5 separate regions of the Homo sapiens genome follow, and all the other regions are linked to region 4. Evidence: fine-mapped expression QTL. A gene starts in region 4. Each other region holds a variant in brackets. All regions are shown on one strand. Distances are between the middles of the regions.

The links.
Region 1: its variant is fine-mapped to the expression of SULF2 in whole blood (INTERVAL, PIP above 0.99).
Region 2: its variant is fine-mapped to the expression of SULF2 in whole blood (TOPMed, PIP above 0.99).
Region 3: its variant is fine-mapped to the expression of SULF2 in unexposed skin (GTEx, PIP above 0.99). The same link has a PIP of 0.9 or more in skin.
Region 5: its variant is fine-mapped to the expression of SULF2 in whole blood (Lepik 2017, PIP 0.93).

Annotation. Positions count from the first base shown.
Region 1 is chr20:47,761,383-47,766,483 of GRCh38, reverse strand. The region is part of intron 1 of SULF2 (sulfatase 2); the gene reads left to right. Among named protein-coding and RNA genes, the nearest start is that of SULF2, 22 kb to the left of the region's middle. RefSeq lists a silencer at 1-179 and enhancers at 52-824, 4,545-5,083. The variant A/TGA (reference allele first, on the strand shown) is at 3,149.
Region 2 is chr20:47,733,409-47,738,509 of GRCh38, reverse strand. SULF2 (sulfatase 2) reads left to right here. Exons shown (of 21, transcript NM_001387048.1): 3 at 1,568-1,807. Among named protein-coding and RNA genes, the nearest start is that of SULF2, 50 kb to the left of the region's middle. The variant G/C (reference allele first, on the strand shown) is at 2,623.
Region 3 is chr20:47,902,712-47,907,812 of GRCh38, reverse strand. It overlaps the pseudogene RNU7-92P. Among named protein-coding and RNA genes, the nearest start is that of LINC01523, 78 kb to the left of the region's middle. The variant T/C (reference allele first, on the strand shown) is at 2,643.
Region 4 is chr20:47,783,459-47,788,559 of GRCh38, reverse strand. SULF2 (sulfatase 2) reads left to right here and starts at 3,079. Exons shown (of 21, transcript NM_001387048.1): 1 at 3,079-3,217. LOC124904920 (a long non-coding RNA gene) reads right to left here and starts at 2,806. Exons shown (of 2, transcript XR_007067618.1): 1 at 2,398-2,806; 2 at 1,675-2,155. It overlaps LOC124904921 (a long non-coding RNA gene), which reads left to right. Exons shown (of 3, transcript XR_007067619.1): 3 at 1,144-1,220. RefSeq lists an enhancer at 1,792-1,961.
Region 5 is chr20:47,661,346-47,666,446 of GRCh38, reverse strand. SULF2 (sulfatase 2) reads left to right here. Exons shown (of 21, transcript NM_001387048.1): 12 at 1-187; 13 at 494-590; 14 at 1,154-1,248; 15 at 2,258-2,317; 16 at 2,825-2,994; 17 at 3,235-3,377; 18 at 4,551-4,674. Among named protein-coding and RNA genes, the nearest start is that of SULF2, 120 kb to the left of the region's middle. RefSeq lists enhancers at 1-642, 643-1,628, 2,162-2,211, 2,242-2,381, 3,192-3,241. The variant A/C (reference allele first, on the strand shown) is at 3,042.

The DNA of each region.
Region 1 (5,101 bases), 22 kb after region 4:
TTTCCAGATCCTGAGCCTTTGTCTTGAAACCTGATCTTTCCCTCCTCCCTCTGAATGACCCTTCTATTGTCTCCTGCCCTGTTCTTGAGAGCCGGCTTGGTTCTCTGCCTCCATTTGGAATTCCAAGAACAGGCAAGGAGAGCCACAAGATGGCCTGGGCTAGGTAGGGGAGACAGGGAGAAGCTGTGGCCCATAGGTTACAGGAGCTTCTGTCCTTTCTTTGACGGCCCCAAAGAGGAGGAGAGAAGGCTGGAGAAAGCCTGTAGCCAGGAAGAAAGGGAGACACAGGGGAGTGTAAAGTTTAACAGATGTGCGTGTGTCATCCCCTGTCTAGACAGCTTCTGGGCTTGTGAGGTTTGGGACCACACTTTCCCATCCCTCCAGGGGCCTCTCTCTGTTTCCTCTGCCTGCTCTTTGCCCAAACTGTTTCTCCTGCCTGAAGCATCCTGTCCTCCACCCTCCTCTTCACTGGCCATCCAAATCCTTTGGATTCTTCAGAACTTTGCTCCTGTTAGGCTGCTCAGTTTATGCTAAGTACTCCTCCAGGAAGCCCTCCCTGACTGCTCCCAGGCCAGCAGTTTCCCCTTTCCTCTTGCTGTTTATACAACACACTTAACCTCAGTCCCTTGTATCACTTGTTGCTTTCCAAGTCAGCATAAGTGTCAAAAGAGTAGGCTCTGGGGTCAGAATGTCTGTGTGCAAATAGCCATGCTGGCTTGCTTGTTTTGTCTGTCACTTGGAGGTGGCACATCCAAGTGAACCTCCCAGGGGACAGGGAAGAGTGGATTACTGTTGTAATCGGGCAGGATTCTCCTATCACTGAACACTGCCTCACATATAGCAGGCCCTTAATAAATATTTGTAAAGTAAATGAAGGAAGAGAGAAATGATCAGGCTCCCTGGACCACCTGAGGAGGCCCTCAGGTCTGTTGCTGGGCTCTGGCCCCAGCCCGTGGGACATATCTGCACACCCACAATTTCCTTTCTTCCCTCCTCTCATGAGTGTTTCCCGTCTGACCAATGCCGCCTTCTGCCTCTGGCCCCTTCTTCCTCTCCCACCACCTCAACTGCCTAATTATTACCAAACTTCTCTCTCCTGTTTTTTTTTTTTTGTTTTGTTTTGTTTTTTTTTAAGGCAGTGTCGCTCTGTCACCCAGGCTGGAGTACAGTGGCTCGATCTCGGCTCACTGCAGGCTCCACCTCTGAGTTCACGCTATTCTCCTGCCTCAGCCTCCCAAGTAGCTGGGACTACAGGCGCCCGCCACCACGCCCAGCTAATTTTTTTGTATTTTTTTTAGTAGAGACGGGGTTTCACCGTGTTACCCAGGATGGTCTCGATCTCCTGACCTCGTGATCCGCCCGCCTTGGCCTCCCAAAGTGCTGGGATTACAGACGTGAGCTGCCGCGCCCAGCCCTCTCTCCTCCTCTTGTTGGATTTGGAGGTGGAGAGAAGATGGGAAGGGAGGACCAAAGGGACAGTATTCAGCACCCATGCTGCACGACACTGGGCAGGTTCTGGAACCTGTCCGTGCCTTATCTTCCTTGTCTGTAAATGGAGCATCCCAACTCACAAGGTGGTTGTAAGGGTGGCGTGAGGTCACACACTAAAAGTGCTTAGAATTGTGCAGGGCCCCTGATGTTAGCTATCATTCATTATTGTTCTTCTAGGGTGTTTCCTGTGTTGGTCTGGGTGCTCCCTGTTGCAAATGACAGCCCTAATTCGGACTCTCTTAAGCAGCAAAGGGCACTTTTTTGAGTCTGTACCTGGCTACAAGATGCAACTTGGTCCACCCCATTGTCACCAGCATCCTCTCTCTCGGGCTCCATCCAATGGGCGGCCACCATCAGCACCATATTCATGCCTCCTGGCACCCAGCACAGTCTCCTCCAGCCTCCAGGACTCCCTCTCGCTTATTGGCCAGACTTGGGTCACATGTCTGCCCCAGGACCAATCGCTGAAGCTAGAGCTGGAATTGCTGATTGGCTCCACCTGGCTCACATGCGCTGCCCTGCAGTCAAACCATATATAAGGGGGGGTGGGAAATAAGAGCACTTGTGGCCTCAAAGCACTAACAGGGGCTGTTACCAGGAGACAGGAGATAATTCTTTGTTAAGCCAGTAAATATTTTGAATGCCTGCTATGCCGCAAGCATTGTTTTAATTGTTGAGGATATAGATCTGAACAAAAATGACAAAAACCTGTACCTTCAGGGGGCTGATATTCTGCTGGAGGACATCCGCAAAGAAATAAAGGAGCTAGCTGTGAGAGGTGGTAAGTGCTACTGGGGAGGGCAGAGATTTCGGTTTTAACCTGCCAAGGTGAAATTTGAGCAAAGACCTGAGGAGGGGGAAGAAGGGATGGTGAAGATAACCTGAATGAAGGCTCCAGGCAGAGGGAGCAGCAAGTTCAAGGGCCCTGGGGTGGGCTGTGCTAGCATGTGCAAGGAACAGTACAGAGACCGTGTGGCTGGAACCAGGTGTGCAAGGGAGAGAGGGGAAGGCAATAAGGTCGGAGAGGTGATGGAGCAGGTTGGGTGGGTTCTTGTAGCCCCTTTGGAGGGTTTTTGCGTTTTACTCTGCGTGGGATGGAAGTTATTGAAGGCCGTTCAGTGGAGGAAGGCAGGCCCTTGCTTTTGTTTTAACAGGATCTGTCTGGCTGCTTGATGGAAGGGACGAGGTAGAAGCAGGGAAACCAGTTAGGAGGCTGTTGGAATCCAGGCAGGATTCTCCTATCACTGAACACTGTGCCTCATAGGAGGTCCTTCATACGTATTTGTAAAGTGAAAGAAGGAAGAGAGAGAAATGATCAGGTTCTCTGGACCACCTGGGGAGGCCGCTAGGTCTGTTGCGGGGCTCTGGCCCCAGCCCGTGGGACGTATCTGCACACCCACAGTTTGCTTTCTTCCCGCCTTTCATGGACATTTACCATCTGACCAGTGCCTCCTTCTGCCTCTGGCCCCTTCTTCCTCTCCCACCACCTCAGCTGCCTGATTGTTCCCAAACTTCTCTCTCCTCCTCTTGTTGGATTTGGAGATCCTCAGAGGAAAACAGCCCATCTGGGTCTTTCTAAACAGGTCTGGATGAGGTCCCAGGTGTTTGTTCACCGCTGTGGTTTGTGGCATTGGGAAGGTGAGGGCATCAGTCACTC[A/TGA]GACCCGTTCCTCTTGGCAGATCGGCAGAGAAATTGAGAACTAAAAATGATGTTTCTAAATGCTCAGGACGTTAGCTGTTTCCAGAGATGTCTCCTGGGCTGGCGAGCCTTTGCCAAGGTCCTGGAGAAGACTCAGGATGGAGAGGAGGAGCCAGAGAGACCTGGAAAGGAACTGGTGGGAAGGAGAGGTGTTGTCCACAGCAGGGATGGAGTGGCAGGCGGCTGGTGCTGCGTGAGTTCACTGGGTGCTCTCTCGGTTCAGCCACTTTGAATATTTTACCAAGAAAAAGGAAAAAAAACAAGGCAGAATCCCTTGTGTCATCTTTAATTGATTTCTTCAGCATCCGGAGAGAAACTGGCATGAGGCCACGAGAAGTCTGAGCCAGGGGAATTCATCAGAAATCGACCCACTGATGACTTGATCTGATGAAATAATTAGCTCCTGTTATTCTCTGGCTTCTGGTGCCGGAGCTTTGACTTCCATCCAGAGGAGAGCGGGTGATAGCCGCCCAGGAGTGGGGGGTGCTCTGAAACCAACATGGGAGCCAGGAACGAAGTCCAGCTGACTGTGCCCCGGGCTCCATCTTTACCCAGCCCAGGGCTCCCAATGAAGACTGCCCTTCCCAGCCCCCCTGTACCCTGGCATCACAGGCCCAGGGCCAAAAAGGCCCTCAGAGGGCACCTGGCCACCTGGCAAATGAGGAAACTGAGGCTGGGAGACTCTTAGGAACTTGTTCAAAGATCTGCTTCTAGGGGGTCCTGGTTGAGCTGCCCAAATCGGGCCAGACTAGGTTTGAACCCCTTCTCTGCCACTTACCCATATGATCGGGGGAAAGTGATTTTAACTCTCTGTGCCTCAGCTTCTTCATCCATAAAATGGGTGAAATATTGATGGGTGGGTGTGCATATTAATTGGGTTGACACCTGCAAACAGCTCAGAGCAGAGACTGGAGTGTGCTGCAAGCTTTCAGAAAGGTTTTCCTGTGATTGGTTTCTGGTTTCAGAGAGTTGCTATTTGTAGGGCACCCCATCGGAATTCTCCCAATATTAGCACTCCACGTCTGTCTCTCTGAAGGAACGTGAATGTGCATCTTAGAACGCTGGCTGCTGCAATCGTAGTTTCAAGTGCAAAGCATCCCGTAGTGTTTCCCGATGGAGGGACATGGGCCACTGATAATGTATTAGTCTGTTTTCACGCTGCTGATAAAGACATACCCGAGACTGGGTAATTTAAAAGAAAAAGATTTAATGGACTCATTGTTCCATGTGGCTGGGGAGGCCTTACAATCATGGTGGAAGGTGAAAGGCACGTCTTATGTGATGGCAGACAAAAGAAGATGAGAACCAAGCAAAAGGGGAAACCCTTTATAAAACCGTCAGATCTCATGAGACTTATTCACTACCATGAGAACAGTATGGGGGAACCACCCCCATGATTCAATTATCTCCCACCAGGTCCCTCCCACAACACGTGGGAATTATGGGCGCTACAAGTCAAGATGAGATTTGGGTGAGGACACAGCCAAACCATATCAGATACACAACATAGTTTGAGGATTACTCTGATTTGGGGTGGTTCAGGGACTGATTCGATGGCTAGAGTTTGTCTCCTTTTCAGCTGTCTGGCAGCCTCCAGTTACCTCCAGCAGAAAGTCTCAGATGGTGCTAATGTGCTTTGACTCCTTTCAACACCTGCTAATCTCACTTCAAAAGAGAGTGCGAGCGCGAGGGCACGCGAAGCCTGGGAAGCTATTTGCATCAAGTTCCACTGATTCAGCTTTCTTTGACTTTTATTTGTACAATTAGCTCTACAGGGAAGCGATGTCCACTTTCCATTTATCTTTGGGTAGGAAGTTTTCTTTTCCCAAAACATGTGTTTGTGTTTTTATTTTAAAATGAGGCCATTTAAAGAAGCACGTTAAGCAAATAATCACTGAAGGGCTCTGCAGATTC
Region 2 (5,101 bases), 50 kb after region 4:
GGGACACAGCCAAACCATATCACCCTCTTTCCAAATATGGTCACATTCACAGCTTCCAGAAATTAGGACATGGTCTTATCTTTAGGGGACGGGGGCACCGTTCAACCCACTGCACACCTTAAGAACTGCAAGGAAAAGGGGAAAAACCAAGGATGGCCATAGAAGAAGGAGAGAGGGTTTCCATGGAATATTTCCATCAAATCACTAAGGGTCTGGGTACCAACCACAGCATACAATTGAGCATGCACTCGTCACACCTATGTTGAGTACCCACTGTGTGTCACACACGGCAGCAGTGCTGAGGATTCAGCGCTGAGCGGAGCACACAGCCTTTGCCCTCCTGGGACCTTGGCCTGCACGCAGTAGGGCTCCCACACACGTTCATTTGCTTCCTTCCTTCCTTCTTGCCTTTCTTCCTAAGTGTCTTGCTCTGCTTACAGCTTGGTTGAGAAACAAGAGCAGGCATGGCCAGGCAAGGTGGTTCATGACTGTAATGACAGCACTTTGGGAGGCAGAGGCAGGCGGATCACTTGAGGTCAGAAATTCCAGACCAGCCTGGCCAACATGGCGAAACGTCATCTCTACTAAAAATACAGAAACTAGCTGCGTATAGGGGCTACTTGGGAGGCTGAGGCAGGGGAATCGCTTGAACCCGGGAAGCAGAGATTGCAGTGAGTCAAGATCACACCACTGCACTCCAGCCTGGGCAACAGAGCAAGACTCTGTCTCAAAAAAAAAAAAAAAAAAAAAAAAACAAAGAAAAGAAAGAAACAAGAGCAGGCATGACCGAAACCTCGAAGCCTGGGGTATGATCAGTACTCAGGACACATGCTGCAAGACTGCTCAGAGCTCTCAAGCCCAGGGTGGTGCCAGAGGCTCCCTACGAGAGGGTACTAGGCCGATGGGTTGGATTTGGGGTGAGGGGTGGTGGGTTCCAGGCTCGAAGAAAAGTGTGGACAAGAGGCCAGCAGGGTTTGTGGCTGATGGCAGAGCACCTCAGCCAGGGAATACTCAGGGAGAAGGTTTGCCACCAGGTTGGCATGACCAGATTTCAGTAAGAGCAAACAATTATTGGGAAAGTTCCAAAGAAAAGAAAGTATAATCTTCCCTCAATTTACATGGTGGTTGGTTTCCAAAAGAAAAAACAAAACAATGTATATTAATACCCTGCAAAAACAATGTTGTGTTTAAAATTTGTAAAACAGTTTGATTCCAGTCTCAGGTCATTTATAAACAGGTTTTTACCTGCCTTGCAGGTAGAGATGCAATTACAGTACCGGACAGTGACAGTACAGTCACTTACAGTCACTCACCTCCAGCACCATTGCAAAATCCTCCAGACTCCAGACCTGGACCTCAGGAGTGTCCAGGTGGACTCGGGACCCAGGGTCCTTCCTGATTATGCAGGACAGTCCCACCGTGCAGCAGTGGCCCCTGCCCCGTCTGCCCCGTAGGTCTGCAGAATGTGCCCACTCCAGACCTAGGGATGCCACGTGCTGAGAGCCCCCTGGTGCCGGTGCCGCCCGGGTCTCCTGCCCTGCGCCTTACTTCCACCCTTGACTTGCAGGTTCCATGCAGGTGATGAACAAGACCCGGCGCATCATGGAGCAGGGCGGGGCGCACTTCATCAACGCCTTCGTGACCACACCCATGTGCTGCCCCTCACGCTCCTCCATCCTCACTGGCAAGTACGTCCACAACCACAACACCTACACCAACAATGAGAACTGCTCCTCGCCCTCCTGGCAGGCACAGCACGAGAGCCGCACCTTTGCCGTGTACCTCAATAGCACTGGCTACCGGACAGGTGAGCAGGGACGGGGGCAGGTGCAGGAAGGGAGTGACAGCCAGGGCGGGCGTCCCTAGGTGTGGTCTGCACACCACTGCGGTACCCAAGTTGATTCTGGATAGCCCCTAGAGCAACTCTCTTATAATTTCAGAGTTGTGCATTTATTTCTGTGTGTATTAAAGAAATACAGATTTATTTGCCTACAGTAGTGATGTAAAGTGACCTTGTCAAAGGAATTTGAGTCCCCCAAAAAAGTGAGTCTTTTCAAACTATGAATCATAGTGTGGAGAGGCCATAAGGTGCCCATGCATGAGTTTGCATCCTCTGTTAATAGTTATTAAGCCCATCAGGGACTGTTTCGTTGACTTCAAACCATTAGCTTGGAAGAAGGTTCCAAAACATAGGGGTGGGGGATGGGAATTCATGGAGGGGAACAGATAATGGGGCTGTGTGGTCGCTTTCTACGTGGCAGTAACCAAGGTGGTGCAGAAACTGACATGGTGGTTGACTGTCCACACTCACCCGTGTCATCCTGGGTGGAGGGCGACCCAGTTCCTGTTTGCTTATCCTTCAGGAGGTCTTTGGTGGGCTCTGAAGGCTCACCTGCCAGGCTGGTTGTCTGAGGTAGAGATGCAATTACAGTATAGTCACTTACCTGTAGCGCCATTGCAAAACCCTCCAGACTCAATTCATTTAACTTGCTTTAATTAAAAATAAATAAATACTCCCCGCCTTGGGTAAGAAGCCGCGGCGGTTGTGAAATCAAGATATTGTGGCTCAGATGTTGCAACCCCAGGAAGTTGCATCCAAGTGACAAGGGGTTTGTTTGGGTG[G/C]GAGTGCCGCAAGGGAAGGATGGACTCCTCCTCCAGCCCTGTCCGCAGTGCTGGACCTGCAGCCCTCGAGGCTGGGCAGCTTCCTCTCAGATACACAGTGTGGGCTGGCAGGGATGCTTTGGTGTGGGGAGCAAGCCAGTAAGGTGTGTCTTCTTACAGCCTCATCCCATAGCCAGAATCACCTAGAAAGTATGTTCTGCTGAGAACTAGGAAGGCCTCGTTCCTATACCTTGTTCCTGTGTATTGTGCGTGCCATTATGCAGAATCAACCACCTGTTGGTTCCCCTGAGCCTCTGCAGAAAGCCACATGTGTCAGAAGTTACCATGGCCACCACCCTAGATGATTGGCGGGGGCCTGGATGTTGCTAGCAGAAGCAGGACAGGCAGGCCCGCAGCACAGCAGTGGGCCCTTATTGAAGATGCACCTGCAACTTGGCTCTAGAAAGTACAGCCATGCACTCAAGAGTGACCAGCCTTGAAATGTTTTAAAGTCTGAATATTTCACTGAAAATCTTATTTTAAAATATGCCGGCACAGCTTATTTTTTCTTTAATGTATACTGGGGGCCAAAGAAAATATGTCTGAGGAGTGAGTGTGTGGCTCACAGACTCTCTTTTCACAACCTCTGGGTGAAAGGTCTGTACAGAAACCTTTCGTTTTGGATGCTGGAAGATCAGTAAAGACCCTAGACCTGTTCTCATCAATCCCCCTCATTTCACAGCCAGGGCCACTGCAGCCCAAAAAAGAGACCTGCCCAGAGTCAAAGTGAGGTGTTTGTGGCATAATCAAAATGGAATGCAAGATCATGGGAATTCAGAGGGGGCATGGAAATAGTATTCATCAGACTGAAAGGAAACTCATATATTCTGTGCCATTTTGAGGGCTCAGGGTGGGAGCTAAAGGCTAGTGTTTCAAAATCTTACAGGCGACATGAGAAAATCAATCATTTCAAGAATAAACATTCTCTAAAGTGGATTTCCCAAACTTGTCCTTGAATGTATGCAAATCACCAAAAAGCTGTCTCCCTAAATAAGTGCTTTTATTCAACTATGATTCATTATTATACCCTCATGAAGACTGGGAGCGTAATGTCAAGTGTAAAGAGCCAGATACCGAGAACATTTACGTTTTTGTAAAACTGCCACTGAGAATTTTATTCATTATATTTAGAATGCCACTCTGTACAAAGAATCCCATTCCAGCCTTACTTTCAGAACTCAGGACCCTGAAAACACCTGTTTAGTCTGATGAACTGGTGTACTCCTTGTTATTACATAATAAGAGCCACATACCCTGTATAGTTTCCCTCTTTGCCCTGGCAGCTAGGAAGCTCAGGTTTGAGTTTTATATTGAGTTGTTGTTTAAAGTGGAAATGTTTTTAAAGATCCAACTGCGTGATATGTTATACTGATCAGTGTTGACTAAGAAAAATGACAAAAATCTATAATGAATTCAAAACCTTTTAGATTATTTTTTCCTTTTAGATTGATTTGTACATACATATTAGAATATACTGTAAATTTTTAATCCCCCAAGGACCAAAAGTAAATTGTTCCTGCTGAGTCTTCAGCCATGTTAAACCCTGTGTTCACGTGGCCACCTAGCAAAGTTGGTTCAGTTGGATTTAAGTTTGGCTGTGTGTGTGAGAGAGACCGGGGATGTCAAATAAAATTCCAAGTTGTTCTGGTGGCCCTGCTCTATGAAGTGGTCAGAGACTCCGACTCCATTTCTCCTTATTTCCCATTGGTGAGAAACAAGTCATATGGCCATGCATGGCAGCAAAGGGGCCTGGGAAATGTAGTCTTATTCTAGGTGGACATTTGCCCAGATGAAAGTTATTTTACTGTGGGAGAAGAAGAAAACGGATACTGAAGGACAAGTGAAGTCTAGGCCACCCTAACAGTTATTAGCCATTTGTGTTTGTGATACTCGTTTGAATAGAGGAGATCAGCCCAAACTGAGGAAGACTGACCCCAGAAAAATGCTACTTAAGTGGACCAACATTTCATAATAAATAGTGCTTTTAATGTATTTAGTAAGGTATTTGATCTTGAAATGAAACTACAATGTTTCGAGAATAACTCTGTTATGTTACATCTCTTTTTTTCTTTTTCTGAGACAGAGTCTTGCTCTGTCACCCAGACTGGAGTGCAGTGGCACAGTCTCAGCTCACTACAACCTCTGCCTCCTGGGTTCAAGCGATTCTCCTGTCTCAGCCTCCTGAATAGCTGAGATTACAGACGCCTGCCACTACGCCTGACTAATTTTTGTATTTTTTGTAGAGATGGGGTTTTGCCATGTTGGCCAAGCTGGTCTCAAACTCCTGGCCTCAAGTGATCCACCTGCCTTGGCCTTCCAAAGTGCTGGGATTACATGCATGAGCCAACGCACCCGGCCCTCTGTTAGGTTGCATCTAATGATATTTAACAAATATTGGGCTCTAGTTGCAACTAATGAGTTGATTCTTCAAGCAAGTGAA
Region 3 (5,101 bases), 120 kb before region 4:
CCCAATTACTATTGGCTGTATCGTTCATGCCCTTTTGCCCCAAACCTCATCCTACCTGTGCACCAAGCTCACCACATACACACACACACACACACACACACACACACACACACACACACCACAGCAGATGCCAATTTTGTGCCTCGCTGCCTCACATAACTTGGGAGCATTGAGTAGTGAACAGCTGATCTCCATGAATTAACGTGGGAGGTCCTGTGGGCCCTGAAGCTTTCACACTCACAAACCGGTGTCGGGATGGGTTGTCATGGAGATCAGGTGGCGGGACACCAGGGCTCCCCCAAGGACTCCGGGCCTCCTCTAACGAGCAGGTCACATGGGGATCTGGGGGAGGCATAGGCACGAACTGCGTATTAAATACACCTGACTCACTGTGTCTGTGAGTGCGTGGGCATGTGTGGGTGTGGGAGAGTGCATGTAGGAGTGAGCATGTGTGTGAGCGTACATATAAGTGTGTCTATGTGTGTGTGTGCATATGAGTGTGTCTGTGAGTGTGTATCAGTGTGCATATATGTGTGGGCATTGTATGCATGCATGTGCATGAATGTATATGTGTGAGTGTATCTGTGTGTGAGCACGTGGATGCATGAGTATGTGGGGGCATGTGTATCTGTGTGTGCATATGTGTAAGGATGTTAGTTTGCATGCATATGTGTCCAGATCCCACATGGGATGAAAATTCAATGGCTCCGAAGATCTGCTGGACACATTTCAGATCCTAACAGAGCTCTTAAGCTCCAAGGGGTCATTGAATGGACAATGAGTGTTTGAGTCCAGGTGGCACGGACTCTAGGAAGGCAGCTCCTAGAGCTTCATAAATAACCCCTCACCCCCTTTCTCTCCCTCACAGTCACCCACCCCTACCCACGTCCCTTCCTCTCCCCATCTCTGTTTGCCTTGCAAGCCTCTCCCATTCCCGGTCTCATTTCTTGCATGTTCATCACTTCATCCTGCAGTTCAATTCCCCTCCAGCCCTCAGCATGGACTGTGGGATGAGAGAGCCACAGCCTTATCCCTGACGTAACCAAAACTCTTGGCACCAGCTTAGACCTGTTTCTCAGTCTTATAAACGGTCTCAAATCAGGGAAATGTAAGGTTCTGAGGAAAATGATCACTACTAGGTGATTCCCCTTTGTGTTACCGTAAGGCGGTGAGACAGAGATTCTCTAACGTTTTTAGTGCAACCCACCTAAAAACACATTGCAAACTGCCACCCACCACACACAAGCACATCCATTTATACAGATACGCAGCACGTTTACCCAAACGACACTCACCCTCGCTGCACACAACGCGCTCTGATGCCTCCTGACCTAGTCTATTCTGGTTCTATTGCAGATTTTCAATGCCGGGCTTGACACTCTAAATTGATTTCAAGACCCACTAATGCATCACAGCCTGTGATTTGATAAACCACGCTAAGACACATCCTGTTGTGAGGTGTTCGATCTAGAGGCCGTTTATCCTGCAGTGAGCGGGGGAGGGGGGGCAGGATTCACCCTGAGGCGCGCCTCCTCCTTCTCAGTCGGGCAGGGAGGAGGGGGCTCTGTGCCATGGGACCCACAGAGGTCCTGGTCTCAGGGTTCATGCCCTGTAGCTGCTGTGTGTCCAGCAGCTGGCAGGGCAGGAAGGTTGGGGGTGGGGGTGTCACTCCCACAGGCACACAGTAACCCGCAGAACCCTGGCCTAAAGCTGCTTAGCTCTGTGGCCTCTTGAGCCCACCTGGGAGCAGGCCCTGGAGGACAGCTGTTGGGGGCAGGGACTCCCAATGCACAGTACAGGCCATGAGCTGGGCAAGCTGCTCCTTCCCATAACGTCAGACCCTTCTTCTGACCCACCTAGGACCAGTTCCTGGGAGTTTGCAGGCAATCCTGGGCCCAGAGAAGCAGGCAGATGCGGCTGTTGATAGCACTACTGTGGGTTGTGAATATCATCCTGTGGTTATTACTTTACTTTCATTACCCGCCAGTACACTCGATCCTGCACGTGTCCCCTCACTTCACGCTCACGGGGTTTGCATGATGGGACGAGCGCTCCCAGTAGGTGATGAGGGTGATAAATGGCACCTGACATTCCTGGAGCACCTGTTGGCGCCCAGGGCGGGGCTTAGTGCTCCATTTGAGTCTGGAGTCTTTACTCTGCCATAGCAGCTGTGTGACCCCCGGTAAGTGGTTTAACCTTTCTGTGCCTCTTCTTTCTCAACTCTAAAGGTGGATAATAAAGTCCCTGCCCTCAGGCAATCAAAGATGTGTTAGAAGGGCTTGGCACATGGCAGGCAGACAGTATACATGGTTGGGATTAACCCCACTATACAGATGAGGAAACTGAGGCTCAGAGGCACTGGCCTGGCAGGCAGTGGGACCTGCACCCAGGCTCGTCTGACACTGAGCTCTTTGGCCTCCCTCCTTTACTGCTGCCTTCAGAAGAGACAGAGGAGAGGGCCACCCCCTCACACGCACACAGGGGCTGACCATCCAAGGTCGCCAATCACCTGGCTGCGAGCAGCCCTGCTCCCACGGGGACACTGACCGCTCCGAGTGCCCGGCATTCAGGCCTCGAGCCACCCACTCTGCACTGCACGGGGCCTCCTTGGAACGCGTCCCTCCCCAGAGGCTGTTTCTCTG[T/C]GGGATGGCGCTGCTCTGTGGGGAGGACCCCACCTCCCTCCTTCATGACGACCTGCCCTCACCTGGCTCGTCTCTTGGCAGACGCTGTCCCACACGTCTCTGTCATTTCCATGCCACCATGGTGACAGTCTTCCTGGCCACGGGTGTGACAGGGCCTTTTAGTTTCTGACTGACACAGTCACAGCCCGATTTCACCTGATTCCACTTACAAAGGCAGGTTTCCCTTCCCAGCCTCACATGGGGGTGGTCTCCGTGGAGTTCAAGAGGCTGTGGGCTGGGAGGAGGGGCAGCAAAGAACCCCAGCACACCCCAAGCAGGAGGGGGCAGCGTCCATCCGGCCATCTGGAGACAGCCAAGACCCTTGGCCACTGCAGATCCCCCCACTGAGCCTGGGCCTCCACCCCCACTTCACACTGGAACAGATGCTGGAGGGGCAAACCCCAAATACCCTCCCTAACCAGAAACCAAAATACTGAACTCCACCAGATCCCAGCCCAGCCTGGCCAGATAGTCTGACTTTCCAACGAAGTCGAAAATACAGATTTTTAGAATTAAAATGTAAATGCTGGCAACTAATTCAAATTCAATTGTGTGGTGGGTTTTTTTTGTTTTTTGTTTTTTGTTTTTGCATGGAGGGCTTTCTGGTGAAAACCAGACCCCACCTGGGAGCAGGCCCCGGGGGGACGGCTGTGGGAAAAGGGGACCCCTTCCCCACAAGTGCAAAGAACAGGCCACGAGCTGGCACAGATGCCTCTTCCCGAGCCCACCTGGGAGTGACAACCGGAAAACGTGCTAGACAAATTCTAAAAGAGCTGTAACACCTTACATTATTTTAAAAGTCCCCAGGTTGAGTTAATCCCAGACCCTTTACAGCTTTTTCCTTCTGATTGGTGAGGCCTCAGCTCAAATGTCACCTCCTCAGAGAGGCCCTCCCCCATGGCCCTATTTAAGTAGCTCCCACCAGAGTCTCAGTCAGCGACACGCACCCTTCATTTCCTTCTTGGCGCTGACCCCTACCTGCAAGTGCCTCGTCATTTGCGGTTGGCATCTGCACTGTCCGTCTCCACCAGCACTTAGGCTCCGTGAGGACAGACGCACGTCGCCTTGTGCCCTGGTGAATCCCAAATCCCTGCCCTGAGCGCAGTGCCTGGCACAGAATAGACACAGGCAATGAGTGCTGCTGAAAGTTCCCCATGGAGCCAGTGGTGATCTGTCCAGGCTCTACAGCCCTCCCGCTAAACGTGTTCAGAGACGGGGACGCTGGGGCCATCCTCCTTGCTCCACTCCTGGTGAAGAGCCCTCAGACCCATAAGATGGGCTTGTCCATATCACCTTCTCAGGTGAGCCTCATACATAAGCAGGTTCAGTGGGTTAACCAAGCCTACATCTTTAACCCACGTGATAACCACAGTACCAGGTTTCTGCCATCAAATCTTTTCTATCCTCAGTCCTGCCTTGGGAATTCAGACTCACCCAGAATTCAGAGTTTCACAGACTCAGAAGAGAATGTGATGCTAGATTGTTCTGAAATGTTTGGTTTTAAAGCAAGATCAAATGATTACATTTGTGATCTGAAATCATTTGATTGTATCAAGCCATATCCCCTTCCAAATTATTTTCTTTAAATTCTCCCCAGAACGGGGAGCAGTATTAATTGTTTCCAATGAAAAGACTGCCCCTTTCATCAAAGCCATGAGCTTTATCTGCTGTTTTTGAATATAACACTGGCTTAGTGAAAGTTGATTGTAAATAGCAGGACTTCTTTCTGTATTTTATCCTTCCAAATGTGCTAGTTGCAATAAAGAAGTGAAAAGTTTAAAAATCCTCTCTTGTAAATGTTTGGAAATTGCACTAGAGTTATTTCTTGCTCTTTGAGGGGAGAGGTCACCCTGCAAACATACAGTCACACCTGTTCGGCTCCCCCGGGTTTTGAATGTCACTAAACCCCCACTTCCCCCCTACCTTGGCAGGTCAGACTCTGTGAAGGATGCTCACTGTCTGTACGACCTCACACCAGGCACAGGGACTGGGGGAAAGAGACACATCTGGCTTGTGGGACATTCCTGCAAGGCCAATTTTCTGGTAGGGAGGTGACACCTGCAAAGGAATCTCTCATTTCTCCCAGCTCCAGCCAGTTTCAACAACAGGTGGGGTTTTCTTTCCTCTCAATTGTTATAGATTTCTTTTCTAATAATCAAAGTCATGACTCATTTTGAAAGTTTTTAAAAATAGAAGAAAAGATTTTAAATCACACGTGATACCAACACCAAAGATAAGCAGCATTCGCATTTTGCTATGTAGTGCTCCTGTTAGACATACACACACATATGATCACACTTACACACTTATGCATTTTTGCTTCATTAAAATAGAATAAAGCTTTATGGGCCAGGTGCAGTGGTTCATGCCTGTAAACACAGGCGGATCACTGAAGGTCAGGAGTTTGAGACCAGCTTGGA
Region 4 (5,101 bases):
ACAACATATCCAAAAAGATAAGCAAATGCCACGTGTCCGCCAGGCCCACAGCCCCAGAAGAAGGGATTGTAAGCATCCCCTCTCTGACTGGGGTTACCTGACGAGCAGAGAAGGATGGAGTGAAACATTGTGGGCAGGATCCTTATGGGTATGGGAGAGCCATGTTCAGGAACTCGAGGACCTAAGGGCACAGTGTGGTAATGCAGTGGGGTTTTTTTTAGACTTTTTTTGCCGTGGAAATTTCCCCACCCCTGAAATATTCTCCAGAACCCAACATAAAAAGTAGGAGGGAGGCAGATCCCATTCCTGGGCCTCCCTCCACCACCCCAGGCCCCAGAAGCACCACCAAGGGGCCCTGAGGATTCAGTAAGAAAATTGCTTCTGCAGTGGGGTACATGTCCCCAAACCAGGGACAGCATCAAAAGGGTTGAAATCCCACTGGCCAAGTTTTTGACTATAGGCAAGACCCTTTATCTCTCTGAGCATCAGTTTGCTTGAAAGATTGTCAGGAGGATTACATGAAATGACCCGGTGGAAACAGCCATTGACCGCAGAACCTGCCAGAGTTGCACTGTCCAGCATGGGACCCCTGAGCCACATGTGGCTGGTCCCAATTGAGATGTGCTGTAAGTTTAGAATGTACACCAGATTACAAAACTTAGTAAGAAAAAATAATGTAAAAATATCTCATTAATTTTATATTGATTACATGTTGAAGAGATCGATTTTGGATATACTAGGTTAAGTAAACTATATTATTAATATTAAAATTAATTTCACCTGCTTTTTTCAGACAGGGTCTGACTGTCACCCAGGCTGGAGTACAGTGGAACAATCATGGCTCACTGCAGCCTTCACCTCCCAGGCTCAAAGTGATCCTCCCACATGAGCCTCCCGAGTAGCTGGGACCACAGGCACATGCCACTATGCCCAGCCTAATTTTTGTATTTCTTGTAAAGATGGAGTTTCACCATGTTGCCCATGCTGGTCTGGAACTCCTGAACTCAAGTGATCCGCCCACCTCGGCCTTCCATACTGCTGGGATTACAGGCGTGAGCCACTGTGCCCGGCCCTCACCTGTTTCTTTTTACTTTCTAATGCCACTACTAGAAAATTCTAAATGATATATATGTCCTTCTGCAGAGATGAGGCGGAAGGAGAGGGGTCTCCATTATTTTTCGGTCTATGATGGTGAAGCCTGACATTCTGTCCCAGGGCAAAGAAGGTGGGAGCTGTTCAGCCTTATCAGTGATGCCAAAGGTAGGGCCAGCACCTGACTTGGAAAAGCAAGTGCAAGGTTTTTCTGATTTATTTAGGCTCTAACTTGATTGGCGTGGCTAACAGAGGTTATGGGGAGGAGCCTAGAGCTCCAAACCCAGTCAGGAGATCCGATTTGAATTTCAGATTTAAAAATGAATGATTTTTTAGTACTAACTTCCTCCCCGTGGATGTCTATATTTATTTGTTAAGTCTGACAACTCTACCATGGAGGATCATATCAGAGAAAGGAGATGCTAGGTTGAAAAGTAAAAACATCCTAGGATTTAAGAGCATGAGCCGGGAGCTAAGGCTTCTTGGCTTCACAGGATCCACCACTTATAACTGTGTGATCTTCGGACAGTTACTAAACCTCTCTTGGTTTCCATGGTAAAACGGGCATAGTAACTTACTGTGTGAGATTGTCACAAGATTTAATAAGTTACTGCTGTTTACAAGTGCTTTCCCACAGCGGCGTCTGTTTCCCCTTAGCTAGCAACTCGGCTGTGTTTTCTGCAGCTGCTGGTGAGTTCTCTGCCCGCTCTTTGCCCACCCGCGTCAGGCCGGTCCCCCTCCGGCCTCTTCTGTGGCGCGAGGGACAGCGGAAACCACGGTAGACAGCACCCCCTTGAGTCCAATTCCTCCCCTTTCGGAGGAAGCCGGTTTCTCCTTTCTATGCTACTCCCGGGCCATTTCTGGACAACAGCTGCTATTTTCACTTGAGCCGAAGTTAATTTCTCGGGGAGTTCTCGGGCGCGCACAGGCAGCTCGGTTTGCCCTGCGATTGAGCTGCGGGTCGCGGCCGGCGCCGGCCTCTCCAATGGCAAATGTGTGTGGCTGGAGGCGAGCGCGAGGCTTTCGGCAAAGGCAGTCGAGTGTTTGCAGACCGGGGCGAGTCCTGTGAAAGCAGATAAAAGAAAACATTTATTAACGTGTCATTACGAGGGGAGCGCCCGGCCGGGGCTGTCGCACTCCCCGCGGAACATTTGGCTCCCTCCAGCTCCGAGAGAGGAGAAGAAGAAAGCGGAAAAGAGGCAGATTCACGTCGTTTCCAGCCAAGTGGACCTGATCGATGGCCCTCCTGAATTTATCACGATATTTGATTTATTAGCGATGCCCCCTGGTTTGTGTGTTACGCACACACACGTGCACACAAGGCTCTGGCTCGCTTCCCTCCCTCGTTTCCAGCTCCTGGGCGAATCCCACATCTGTTTCAACTCTCCGCCGAGGGCGAGCAGGAGCGAGAGTGTGTCGAGTGAGTGTGCGTCTGTGTGTCCCGGCGAGGGTGCGCGCTCGGCGCCGGGAGCGCGGCCAGCCGAGTCCGGAGGCATCGGGAGGTCGAGAGCCGCCGGGACCCCAGCTCTGCGTTCACTGCCCCGTCCGGAGCTGGACTTCGGGGCCGGGGCCGGGGCCGTGCGCCGGGGACAGGCAGGGCCGGGTCGCGGGCCGCGCGTCCCCCAGGCCGGAGGTAAAAGCGCTAGCGCGCGGAGGGCTCGAGGAGGGCACCGCGGCTGGGCCCCCCGCGCCCCGGGCCCCAGCCGTCCGCGGCTCCCGGCCCGACGCTCCCCGCCCCGGAGCGCGCCCGCCTCCCCTGCGTGGAGGCCGGCGGGCAGGCGAGCGGGGGGCGGTAGCGCCGTGCCAAGGGGCTGGCTGGGGCAGCGTGGCCGGCCGGGCTGGGGCGATTTAAGAGCGGTCCGGGCGGGGTGCGGAGCCGGACTTTGGCTGGGGCGGCGCGCGGGGAGGGGGCCGGGGGCGGTGGCGGCGGCGTTGGGGGGCGGGGAGGAGGCAGGAGGAGGAGCAGCAGCGCTCGCCGGGGGATGCAGCAGCGGCAGCGGCGGCGGCGGCGGCGGCAGCGGCAGCGGCGGCGCGGAGTCCCCTGCGCCCAGCGGCCCGGCCGGGCTGCGGCAGAGGCGGCGGCGGCGCCCCGCTCCGGGTGAGGTTGCCGGGGCCGTGCGCGCTGGTGAGTGGGGCGTGGGGGGCAGGTGGGTGGCTGGGGGACGCGGGGCTCGGGCGGGGGCTCGCGGCGGCCGGAGCCTTCCCCGGCGTGAGCCCGGCCGCGAGCGCCGCCCAGGTGAGCCGGGGCTGGTCCGGACCGCCCGGCTCCAGCCCCAGCGCTGCTTGCGGAGGTGGGTCCGGGCGGGCGGGAGGGAGGCTCCGGCGCCGGCCGTCCGCAGAGGGATGACCTGTTTGACCCCGCTGGCTGGCGGGCGGGCGAGGACTTCCCGCCGCGCCCCTGACCCGCGGACACGGCACACCGAGCACAGGCGGCCCCGGGTAGGGGAGCGCGCCTGGGCCGGCCATCCGCAGGGGCATGGCCTTGTTGACCCTTAGGGTTTAGACCCAAGGGACCGGTAGATGCCAGCCCACGTGGGGCTTGTCCGGGCAGGACTCGGGGAAGCAGTGGGCCGGATCTTCAGAGTGGTTGGAAACTCGCAGACACCGAAAGGACAAACAGGATCGAAAAGGCAGACTTCCTCCCAGGCCAGGGCAGAACGAGTTTCCATCGCCTGGCGGAGGGATGCTCCCCTCCCCGGCTCCTCGGGGTTTCAGAAGTCTAGCGGTGAATTCTAGGAGTGCACTTTTCCAAACATTCCTTATAGTAGTTCGTTCATTCGTTCTACAAGCATTTCTGGAGCACCCCCTCGTGCCGGGCACCGCGTTCTGTTCCAGGGAAACGCGGCTGAACAGGATCTGGCTCCTGCGCGCCAGAAGCTGCCGGTTCACTGGGAGGGCAGCAGGGTAGAGAGATGCCGTCTCGGGGTGGAAGATGGAAAGGGAAGCCTGCAATCCTAGTTTGCACACTGGCCTCGGTCCGCAACTCCCCCACCTGCACGCAGTAGGCCCAGCACACAGTAGGAAGAGCAAGCCAGACCTGCCTGTGACGACCCTCTCCTCCTCCTCCTCCCCCTTGAAAGCTTTGATTCATTCCCTGCCCCCCTTTCTGGAAAGTCTTCCTGCAGCTTGTTTTAATCACTTTTTGAGTTAAAAGTCAATATTTAATTAACCAAGTAATTACATTCAGCTTACGTTTCAATCTGGGTATTTGCTCATCTGTGCGTGTTGGGACACCCGCCCTCTCGCCCCTCCATCTGTCCCCTGCCTGTTTCCCACCGGGTCCACCCCCACTTTTGGGGCAGAGAAGGGGAGGCTGCGCTGGAGCAGGTTCTCAGGGGGAGACAGGGAGCAGGAGAGACGGGCTTTCTCTGGAGGACACCCCCGGATCTGCGCGCTCTCCAAATTTCAGCTTGTAGTGAATAGTGAAGGTGATTTCTTGACAGCCTCTGCCTCCCATTACAGAACCACCAGAGGGTTCTAATTAAATTAGAGCCAATCGTTAAGTATAGGAACGGGGTAGGGAGGACAGAACGAAGGGGGCCCCTTCCCTGTAAGAGATGTTCTCCCCAGCTTCGTCTCTCCCACATCATAGAGAAGAGAAAACTCATCCAGACAGCCTGTCGGATGTGTAATTTAGCGTTCTAATAAGCAGCTTGAAAGGCGAAGGTGGTGGGCTTGGCAGATGGCATGTTGGACCTTTGTACATGAAGGCCTCTTCCTTCCCCAGCTAAATTTATATACATAAAGGCCGTGATGTTGGCATCACTGCTGCAGCTGAGGGTCAATGTGGGTTTGGGGTTTGGGCTTTGTGTGTACTTCTTGGGTTTTTTATTTGAATTTATGGCTTTTTCTGAAACCCTAATAACATGTTAAATTTTCAAACTTGAGAGTAGAGTGATGAGTTGACTGTAAAAGTCTGGTCTTGGAGGAGGACAGCATAGCAGTGTGTGTGCATGCACGTGCATGTCCCCCAGTTCAGCTGCTGTCCAAAGAACCCAGTTGATATGCA
Region 5 (5,101 bases), 120 kb after region 4:
TGGCCATCGAGGTGGACGGCAGGGTGTACCACGTAGGCCTGGGTGATGCCGCCCAGCCCCGAAACCTCACCAAGCGGCACTGGCCAGGGGCCCCTGAGGACCAAGATGACAAGGATGGTGGGGACTTCAGTGGCACTGGAGGCCTTCCCGACTACTCAGCCGCCAACCCCATTAAAGTGACACATCGGTGAGTGTCCAGGTGGAAGTCGAGGGTGAAGGGGACAGGACAGACCTCGGCAAAGGGCTTCCCACACCTCTTGGGCCCCTGAGGACCAAGATGACAAGGATGGTGGGGACTTCAGTGGCACTGGAGGCCTTCCCGACTATTCAGCCGCCAACCCCATTAAAGTGACACATCGGTGAGTGTCCAGGTGGAAGTCGAGGGTGAAGGGGACAGGACAGACCTCGGCAAGGGCTTCCCACACCTCTTGGGCACCTGGGCTGCTCCCCCTCCACCACCTCCGAGCCACACGTGATCCCTTCTCTCAAGCAGGTGCTACATCCTAGAGAACGACACAGTCCAGTGTGACCTGGACCTGTACAAGTCCCTGCAGGCCTGGAAAGACCACAAGCTGCACATCGACCACGAGGTGAGTGGAGAGCGGGAGAGGAGCATGCTCTCGGCCACCACGGGCCTGGCAGGACCCCCGGTTCACAGTGGGAGGGCAGTGAGGCCAGACCCAGGGAAGAGGCTGGAGAGGTGAAGTGAGGTCCCCACAGATTCCTCAACGCGGGGATAGGTGTCAGTCCCAGCATGAGACAGATAGCTTCCTGCCCAGGCCGTCTGAGGGACGATGGCTTAGCCACGTTGTCCCCCTTTTGACTTACAAGAAGTCTACGCTACAGGAGGCCTTTCATCAAACCCAGGGGAGACACTGGAGGCCTCAGTGGGCTCAGCGGGTTCCTGCGCAGGCCAGGCCGGAAAAATGACTCGGTTCCCTTGCAAGGGCTGGCTGGAGGAGAAGGCGGGCTTCCTTCAGGCAGAACAAGTACCTCCTCCCCACCCAGACATGCCGGTGCTTGCCCTGGGGCCCGGGGAGTGCAGGCTGCCGCTGCTGAGCACAGACACGGCAGCGTGGGGGCAGTCACCAGGCCAAGTCTTTGTTGTCCAGCCTTGAAGGTTTCAAGGCCTCCTCTTCTGCCCCTCCCTCAGATTGAAACCCTGCAGAACAAAATTAAGAACCTGAGGGAAGTCCGAGGTCACCTGAAGAAAAAGCGGCCAGAAGAATGTGACTGTCACAAAATCAGGTGAGGCAGTAGCAAAGGGACCTCCCTAAGACCCCACTCTCCTACAGGACAGTTCAGTTCATCCCCTCTCGTGATTGACCCCTTTCATTTTTTATTTTTATCTTTATCTTCTCCCCTCATGGCATTAAAAAAATCCGTAATTTACCTCCCTGTTGTCAGCCAGTGTGGCACACGGACCTGCTCCTCAGCCAGGCTGGCGCCCAGATTCCAGTACTGCTAGCAAGAGACCCGTGCTGGCTGCGCAGAGCCGGCTCCAGGCCGGAAAAGTGCCTCTGCCGATTGCCCTTTCAGAAATCCCCCATGTGGTTTGAGGTCCATGTTCCCGGCTTAGGGGTCCCCTGGCCCAAAGGACTGAACTCTAGAACAGCTCTAATAGAACATTCTGTGCTGACGGAAATGGGCTATATCTGCACTACACCACACGTGGCTGGTGCATACTTAAAATTTTGGCTAGTGTCACTAAGGAGCCAAATTTTTTATTTTGCTTAATTCAAATTGAAGTAGCCACCTGTGGCCAGTGGCTACCATACTGGACAGCACAGCTGTAGAAGCCCTGCTGTCTTTCCAGAAAGTGTTGCAAAACACAGGCTTCCCTGTGTTGACCCCGACCAAGTGTGAGTAGGCAGGGTGGTGAGGGAACCAACCTCAAGATGCTGAGGCTTTGACATGTAAAATTAACCATCAAAAAAGAAAGGAAAAAGGATGCTGAGGCTGATGCACCTAAAGCCAGGCCCAGCTTCTAGTCGTGGCTAAATTACAATTAACCCAACCTGCTAAAGTCTAGCAAAAGTCCAGGCAGAGTCCTGGCTCATGCTTGGAGAAAGAAGCCACTCAGGCAGGCACCTGCTGCCCTGAGGATAGGGTCATGCCCTACCCACCACCACCCCAGAAGGAGGGACAGGGGTGGGGCAGCAGCAACACATGGGAGTCCCAGAAATCACAGCTTGCACCTGCCAGCGGAGCCCTCTGAGCCACTCCTGAAGCCTGGGGCTGGGGGGGTCTGTTACAGCTACCACACCCAGCACAAAGGCCGCCTCAAGCACAGAGGCTCCAGTCTGCATCCTTTCAGGTAAGAGCAGCTTGAGGTCCTGGGGAAGAGATGCAGAGGCCTGCATGAGGAGGTGGCCCTCCCTTAAGCTAAAACTCAGAAGAAAAGGAAAGAAGTCCAGGCCCTTCCCTGGGAAGTCCACGGTAGCCCTCGAAGAGGCCTTACTTCCCAATCAACACTGAGCGGGCCTCCGACGCCCCCTTGTGGCTAAATGGGGTTACCGCAACTCCACCAAGCAGGGCAGGACACAGGAAGGAGGGGAAAGGGGTGTCAACAGGAGTCCCAGTAGCTGCCTGGTTCTGTCCCCAGCTTGTGCCCCCTTGGGAGTTAAAGTAGAATGACAAGACCCAGGTTCTGGTCCCGGCTCTGCCTTGGAGCAGCACTGGGACTTGGGACCCTGAATTGCTATGCCCATGGCTCTCTGTTGGAGAAGCCTCAGCGAAGCCCTTAGGTGGACAGGAAGAGCAGAGACATGGGGTCACTGATCCCTCAGAGGCCCAAGGTGTGTGTGGCCCTCTGCGCCCATAGGAAGGGCCTGCAAGAGAAGGACAAGGTGTGGCTGTTGCGGGAGCAGAAGCGCAAGAAGAAACTCCGCAAGCTGCTCAAGCGCCTGCAGAACAACGACACGTGCAGCATGCCAGGCCTCACGTGCTTCACCCACGACAACCAGCACTGGCAGACGGCGCCTTTCTGGACACGTGAGCAAGCCCAGGGCAGGGGTGGACAGGCTGAGGCCCAGGGGTTC[A/C]AGAAACTTCTCCACTTAGTGACCCAGACCTCTCTCAGAAAGGGGGTCCCCAACACCAGGGGTCCACGGTGCTCGGGACAGCCTCTTGGCATTTGACGAACTGGTTTTAGGGGCTGTCCCTGACAGGAATCACTGTTGGCAGATGGGGCCTCCTCCCGCAGGCACTCAGGACATGCTCTCTCTTCCTTGGCAGTGGGGCCTTTCTGTGCCTGCACCAGCGCCAACAATAACACGTACTGGTGCATGAGGACCATCAATGAGACTCACAATTTCCTCTTCTGTGAATTTGCAACTGGCTTCCTAGAGTACTTTGATCTCAACACAGACCCCTACCAGGTACAGGCAACCCGAGCTAGAGGGATGGGGGTGTGGGGTACACCAGTGCTGCCAGGTAGGCCCCCCCCAACCTCAGGGAAGTGATGACAAATTGTCCAAGTCCCACTGAGTCCCTGAGCCGGTGGGAGTAAGTTGTGAAGCTGCTGAGATTGGGGGTTCTGTGTTCAATCAGCCTTTTTTGCCTCCATCACCCTGCTTTTTGCCTCCATCACCCTGCGTGTGTAATATATATGGCTTCTTCCCTCTAACTTAACATGCAGCATGCAACCAGGTTTTGCCGGAACTTGTGAAGACTCCTAACACTGTCAGGCTGTAGGATCAAGCCAAATATCACCCACTGCAGGGCCTACACGGACCGCGCAGCTAATATAACAGTAACACACTGCACCAAGCACTCTGCTAAGTGCTTCCGTACAGTAAGCCATCTAAACACACATGCGACTGAAGTGGCCCAGGACCACACAAGACCAAAAGGAGCAGTGGCATGTCTGGTCATCGGAACATGTGGGCCCTTGTACAGGGACAGTCACTACTGAGCTCCAGCACTAGAGCTTTCCTGTACTGTGGCCTTGGTATTGCCCAGGCTTTGACCTTTCAAGAAAAGCCTGAAATAATTTAAATGAAATCTGATGTTTAAATGTCAGCAGCACAAATGCTTTAATTACTATATAGGTGTGCAGTCTTTCTCCTTAGATAGGTTCACCCTCATACTTTACCAAAGGGGTAGGTTAAGTCCCTCACCGGTAGCTCCCAGACTACACAAGAACCCAGGCCACTTACCCGTCCTTTCATCAAATGGCTGCTTTGCAATCAGGAGGAGCTGAGGGCCCCTGAATGAAGGCTGCTGATAAAACCAAGACTTGGAAGGCTTTCTTTCCAAGCTTGGGAAGTTTCCTGACCAGTGGCTGCAGAACTCCAACGTTAAATACACAGACGTGGTTTTTATTCTCCTGAGTTTTCACTCTCATGAAGAGTGAACCTGGTGGGACTTGAAGCCAAAAAGTCACCTAACTCTTCCAAACGCTGGCTCTTGCAGAAGTTGGAGTAAACAGGTCACCAGCCCCTAGCACCTTCCACCCGCCACCTGCCTGAAATATGTCCCCTGGTTGGTAGAAGGGCAGGGCGAGAGTCCCTGTACTTACCTTGTTGACAGACTACCTTTTTTGCAACCAGCTGATGAATGCAGTGAACACACTGGACAGGGATGTCCTCAACCAGCTACACGTACAGCTCATGGAGCTGAGGAGCTGCAAGGGTTACAAGCAGTGTAACCCCCGGACTCGAAACATGGACCTGGGTGAGTAGGCACCCCAACGTGGGGCCCTTGGACAGCAGGGTAACCAAAGGAAGGGACTCAGGAGGTGGTGTCTACCCCAAGAATGAGCCTGAAATCACCAGGCTTTGGGAGGTGATACAGTTCCAGACGAGTCATGGGAGCCCCTGTCCATAGCAGGCAGATGACCTTTAACAAGCTGTGATTCCTGAGAGAGGAACACCTGCACCAACTGCCCAGGAAACACACGGAATTCCGTCTCATTTCATTGTCCTCCCTTTTGTCCACTCATGCATTCAACAAACACTTCCTGAGAACTTACACCTGAAACCATGTTGACTAAAGATGACCCCATCCTCGCTGACTTGTGTGGAGCCAGTGTTGTCCTAAGAAGAGCAGTCCACAGCAGGAGGCCTCTTGCTTGTATGGAAAGGGTAAAACTGGATGGTAG